Linked DNA regions of Homo sapiens: region 1 is linked to region 2. Evidence: fine-mapped expression QTL. A gene starts in region 2. The other region holds a variant in brackets. All regions are shown on one strand. Distances are between the middles of the regions. Region 1 overlaps TTLL4 (tubulin tyrosine ligase like 4). Region 2 holds the start of TTLL4 (tubulin tyrosine ligase like 4).

Evidence for each region. PIP is the estimated chance that this variant, and not a neighbour inherited with it, causes the effect.
Region 1: its variant is fine-mapped to the expression of TTLL4 in whole blood (TOPMed, PIP above 0.99).

What each region holds. Positions count from the first base shown.
Region 1 is chr2:218,744,133-218,747,045 of GRCh38, reverse strand. It overlaps TTLL4 (tubulin tyrosine ligase like 4), which reads right to left. Exons shown (of 20, transcript NM_014640.5): 6 at 1,813-1,937; 7 at 1,245-1,355; 8 at 815-891; 9 at 1-43. Among named protein-coding and RNA genes, the nearest start is that of TTLL4, 35 kb to the right of the region's middle. RefSeq lists enhancers at 1-38, 1,032-2,231. The variant T/G (reference allele first, on the strand shown) is at 1,651.
Region 2 is chr2:218,709,581-218,712,493 of GRCh38, reverse strand. TTLL4 (tubulin tyrosine ligase like 4) reads right to left here and starts at 1,659. Exons shown (of 20, transcript NM_014640.5): 1 at 1,457-1,659. It overlaps LOC124907983 (a long non-coding RNA gene), which reads left to right and starts at 1,010. Exons shown (of 2, transcript XR_007088089.1): 1 at 1,010-1,274; 2 at 2,408-2,892. RefSeq lists silencers at 1,268-1,317, 1,328-1,377 and an enhancer at 1,758-1,857.

The DNA.
Region 1 (2,913 bases), 35 kb before region 2:
GGTCCTTCCTCCCAATCTGGAATGAGCCTGGGAAATGGTTTAGCTACAAAAGGGAAAAGGGTGAGTGCAGGAAGAGGGCAGAGGTGAGGCCATGAGGAAGATGACAAGACTCATTCTACCATTCCAACTTCTTTAGCAGCACTCCAAGCTTTTGTTCCATCTTACTATCACCACCCTAATGGTCCTCAAGTATCCAACTGCAGAGCACTCACCAAAAGATGATTAAAACACAGACAAAACAGAGTAATGTAAGCCAGATGTGATATTCACCTTAAGTGCAAAGAAAAAGCTATTACATCTTTATCCATGAAACCCTATGGGATGAGGACAGAAAAGCATTTCGCCTTTAGTAAGTCTGGAGGCAAGGGACTCATTCATTCCAATGTGAGACCAGAAGTCCTCTTTACACATATTCAGCTTGGGAGAATGGAATGTGCAGTGATCATAGGGAAACATAATAAACAGAAAACAGACAATCTAACTCAAGACACATTAGAGGAAAAAGCATCTTGGAGAAGCTGCAACTGCAGGATTTCAGAGTTACACCCTCCTATGAGGTTGGAGTTCAGGAGAGGGACTCAGCTGCCCCCTACATAGGCAAGAAACTCCAAGATACTGCAGCTGAACTGGAGATGTACGTGATCCACTGGAGTCTCTCACTGTACCCCCGTCCTGTACTTTCTCCTCTGTACACCTTCCTGACTTCTCCATGGTCATCATCCTCTTCCCGCCCCCTACCCCCTACTCACATCATCCCCCTCCTCTTGGCCTAGTCCAAAGTCCAGGGAAACAGCTCCTCAGAAAGGACCCCTACCTTCTGATGCTCTCGAATGGATCGGAAACTAGGAGACTTCATGTGGTGACCCCAGCAGCCCAGCCAGTCATCGTTTCCTATGGGAGGTACATCAGGAATCAGCCTTGCTAACAGCTCAGTCCAGGGACAGAGAGAGGCCCAGAGGCCCCAGAACTGGGCAGAGCTCCCAGACTTGGTTTTCAAAGAGTTGCTATGGAGCTGTCCTACATGAGGCCCTGGGGCCAGGGACAGAACAATGGCCCTCTGTCTCTCAATTCTGAACAACAGGCTCAGTCCAGGATTTCAGAGCTACACCCTCCTATGAGGTTGGATTTCAGGAGAGGGCCCCAGCTGCCCCGACATAGGCACGAGGTGTCTAGAGCTCTCCCCCTATGCAAAGCCCATCTATTTGGGGCAAAAGGACAGGCTCACAGTAAGGCAAGCAACTCACTTTTGCTGATTTTGAAGTGGGACCGTCCAATGGTCTGCTTGACAATGTTGGGGGTCACTGTGCTCATCTTCCATCGGAGCAACTTCCTCTGTTCCCAGGGAAGTTTCTCCACTGGGAAGAATGCAAGGGGTGTGGGGATGGGGGATGGAGAGGAGCAGAGAGTCATGATGAGAAGACAAAAAAGATGGCATGGCTGCCCATTCTTCCCTGGGCAGGCAAGTCACTAACTATTGCTCCAGATCAGGGTTTCAGAGGAGCACACTTTGGGAAAGAAGAGGGGCTGTGCAGGAATGAGGAACAAAGAAAGGGAAGACTGAAAGGGAAAAGCAACAAGGTTGAAGAGCATGAACTCAGCATGACATGGCAAGGCTGAAAAGGGTCAGCTAAAGGACAGACAAGAAAAAGG[T/G]TGCATCAGACCTACGACCACATGGGGAACTGAGCACAGTGTGACAACTGCCACAACAGCCATTCTGGAAACCCTCTCCTACCTACTGCCACCTCCTCCCAACTTAGCTAGCAACCTTCTCCCCGGGGGCTCTTCTGGGCTTTGACACTTGGCCAGGTTTACCTCTCTCATCCCGAGTGCCAAAATAGATGGTAGGGGGAACGTTGGGAAAGAGACTGTAGATGAGGGCTGGTCGGACAACTTTCTCATGATTGGAAAGGGGTTTGGTCAGAATTTCCATACAGCTTCTAAGACGAAAAACAAACATGGAGTAGAGAAAGGGAAAAAGCAACAGCCCTGAAGCGTCGTTACTACGACGTACGATTTATTTCCAAGTGCTGTCTTTTAACTTGTGATTCTAAAAAGCCAGGTGCTCAATAATTAATAATTATTTTGTACATATTAATCCATAAGGTACTAGGCTAACCTACATACAACCACACCATTAAATGTCACCTAAAGACAAGGTTTTCCAACACTTCATTCTGCAATACAGCTCCAAAATTTCCCGTGACAAGACATTGGCTGGGAAAGTCCCTGACAGGAGTAGTTCTGAGAGGGGAAATGAATGTGGGTGGATACCAGTAGCAGAACGTGCTATGCTAAGACAAAGAAATAAATGAGAGAAAAGAATGATGTAAAAATTACGAAGGAGGAAAACCAAACAAGATCTGAGGTGTAGAGACTTTTAAATAAAAAAAGGGGAAAAAGCAATAGAAAGAAAAGAAACAGTGATACTTCCAGTTCATTTTATATTTAGGTTCATCTAAAGATTCATGAACCATTAGTGCTTTTCTCCATTTTGGAAGTGATTTGTGACACTGTAATTTTATGTAACAGTATGGGAACACAGATATGGATGTGATGAAGAGATGTGGCTGATGTGGGACAGTGGGCCATGGGGGTCCCTACTGTTAATCCAACAAGGGCTTGGCCAAGGCTGTCTCAAGGGGTGTCAACATAGCAAACATATCAACTACCTGTCAGGTACAAGCTGAGAGACCAAGATCATTCCTTTAACTAGCACTGAAAAATGGAGAAAATAGCTATTACTCTTTACAACTTAGATAATATAATCCACGAATATTATTATAACATTAATTTTTAGTTTAAAAAAGTCACTTTACCTGTTATTATTTTCAGCACAACAGAAATAGGCACTGTATGTGAAACACTTCAGTGTTTTAACTCTTAAAGATTTTTAATGAATTTTATGGAATCAAG
Region 2 (2,913 bases):
AATCGCTTGAACCCAGGAGGTGGAAGTTGCAGTGAGCCAAGATCGTGCCATTGCACTCCAGCCTGGGTGACGGAGCAAGACTCTGTCTCAAAAAAAAAAAAAAAAGTTCACTGGGAAGCTGAGGATCTGGAAATGTATTCATGTTAAGCTAGACGTGCAAGTGTATCCCTTGGAAGTCTACAACCCTGATTACTCCAGCTTGAAAACCACTGCTCCAGGGATATAGTTCTAACTCAGCAAAACATCCAAGGCCCTTTGTGATCTAACCCCTATTAACTTCACTCTTTCTATTTGTTACTGGATGGCTCCCTCCAAATCTAGCCCAGGTCTGTCAAACTGTTTCCAGTTCTCTTTTCAGGACTTGCTGTCCCTTTCCTAAAGCCACTGTGTATCTGGAATGTCCTCCCACCTCTCTATTCGCAGAAAACACTTGATAATTTTTCAAGGATTGATTCAGTCCAATATAAGTAGCTGCTAACTTTCTGAGCACAAAGTGGGTGGTTTAAATGCAAACAGTGTCTCAGTATTCAGTGCAAGAAACAGAAGGATGGGATGGAACACTGTCCCAAAGGGTCCCCCAAATGCTAAATCAACAGGTGCTGCAGTTAAAGAATAGGTGATTTGTAGTATCTGAGAAAGCAAAGAAGATTTCATCAAGGAAGGATTAAAATATTTCCGAGATCCAGAATGGGAATGTGAAGACCAGGAGGAATGGCAATAATGTCGTTTTCTAAGTAAGTCCGGATTAAGTATTTCCTGTTCTATCACAGCACACACCACAGTATGGCAAATGCTCGTTTACTTGATTAATAATCTCCTAGACTGTAAATTCCGTGAAAACATGCTTGTCCTATTAGCCACTCTATCCCCTCAATCCCTCCCATTGTACCCAGGCTCATTAAATATTTGTCAATGTTTACTAAAAATTGTTTAGTGAATGATTAAATAAAGGAATTGATGAATGAAGAATTAAATTCCACAGGATCTCAGATCCTGTTTGAATCTGTGGAGTTTAGGAACGTATTCTTCTACAGATACTGAGGATGGAGAAGTGAAAAAGCAGATATCCATGTTAAATTCGGCCCTGGAGCCTGCGAGGAGCTTGGGCTCACACCCAGAGGGAATTTAAACCTCAGCGCGGCAGGACAGAGGAAGCTCGGAGGCCATAACTAGGGGATGAGGCAGTGTTCGGGCACCCGGAGGCGAGGCCGACTAAGTTCGCGGGGCGTGGCGGAGAGGAGAAGGGCTCCGAGGAGGCGCGAAGTCCCGGCCGGGTAGGAGGCCGCGGCTCCCTGGCCTCCCGGGGGATGAGAGGTGGCGGGAGGAAGCGGGGCTAGGGTGAGAGTGGCCGGAGGGCTGGGGACCCGCGCGAAAGGACTCAGGTAGAGGGAGGTCGGGAGCGTGGGACCGGCGGAGTGTCTGGGGTCGGCTCCCCTGGCTCCGCAGCCGCACTCACCTAGGGGATCCAGCTTCGCCCCGGCTCGGCACCGGCTCCACGCTACTTCCTCCCTCGGCCTGCTGGGCTACCCGGCAGCCTCAGGCGCCCCTAGCAACCACGCACCGCCACGCGTGACAAGCGCACTCGGCCGCCAGCGCCGCTGCCGCCTGCCACACACCGCGCGCGCCCCCAGCGGACAGACCGAGAGTCTGGAAGAAGAGGGCGGGAGGCAAGCGCGGGGAATCTCGGGGGTTCTGGGGCCTGTAGGGGCGGGTCGTCACCTGACTCGCGCACGCGCAGTCCCTTCAGTGCGGTGGGATCCGGCGAGCGGAATTCTGGGAGATGTAGTCCCGTGGTTAAAGCTCTGAAAGGCTCCATTCGGAGCATCCAGGACTCTCTCTTTCTACTCTAATTCCACCTACTCCCTATGGACTGTTTTCTTTTTTAGAGACAGAATCTCGCTCTGTCGCCCAGGCTGGAGTGCAGCGACGTGATCATAGCTCACTGCGAACTTGAACTCCTGCTCAAGCGATCCGCCCGCCCCCAGCCTTCCGAGTAGCTGGGACTACAGGCACGCCACCATGCTGGGCTATTTTTAAATTTTTTTTCTCAGGACAGGGTCTCACTATGTTACCCAGACTGGTCTTAAACTCTTGGCCTCAAGTGATCCTCCTGCATCAGCCTCCTGGTCGCTGGGATTACAACGGGAGCCCCCACGCCTGGCCTGGACTCTTTGGCCTTGCCTCAATTGAAAATCAAAGGGCCCAGGCTCAGTTGAAGGATTTCTAGAAAAAGCCTTTGAGTTTGACCGCAGGAAAGGGGAGATTGCCCGATTCACTCTGCCTCCCTCTAACCCATCCTTCCCTAACCCCAACCCACCCAGCGGGGCAAAATTAAAACCACCTGCCTGCTTTATGGGCTTCAAGTGTGAACGTTAGGAAATACTGACTCAATTCCTTATCTCGTTAGCTCCCCAGGCAAGCCAGATCGCGCTCCTGCCTCAGATGTCCGTAGACCTGAGAGATTTGGAGATCTAAGAAAGCTGGAAGATGAAAGGATCTTTCCTAGGCAATTGGCTACAGAAATAAAGGGGACAAAGATAAAACTAATCTGATGAAAACAGTCTGGACCAGAGGAAGGATCTCAATAAATAACTTATTTAGTCAACAGTCGTTGATGGATGCTAAAAGTATTAGATAATTTATGGGAGAATTTTACACTGAAGGATGTACACTGAAGATAACCTACATGTACTAATCAATCTTAGATCACGAAACATGGGACAGCTGAGCATTGTTTCTTGATGTGATGCAATTGAACAGAAATATTTATGAAGTATAGCGTATTTTTGTAAAAAAAAAAGTTGAGTGACTCTAATCAAGTTTTGGCTGTAATTTCCAGTTAACAAGAAATAAAGAGAAACAACTGTATAACACTACAAGAAAGCAATCAAACAAATCCAGAATGTGAGCCAA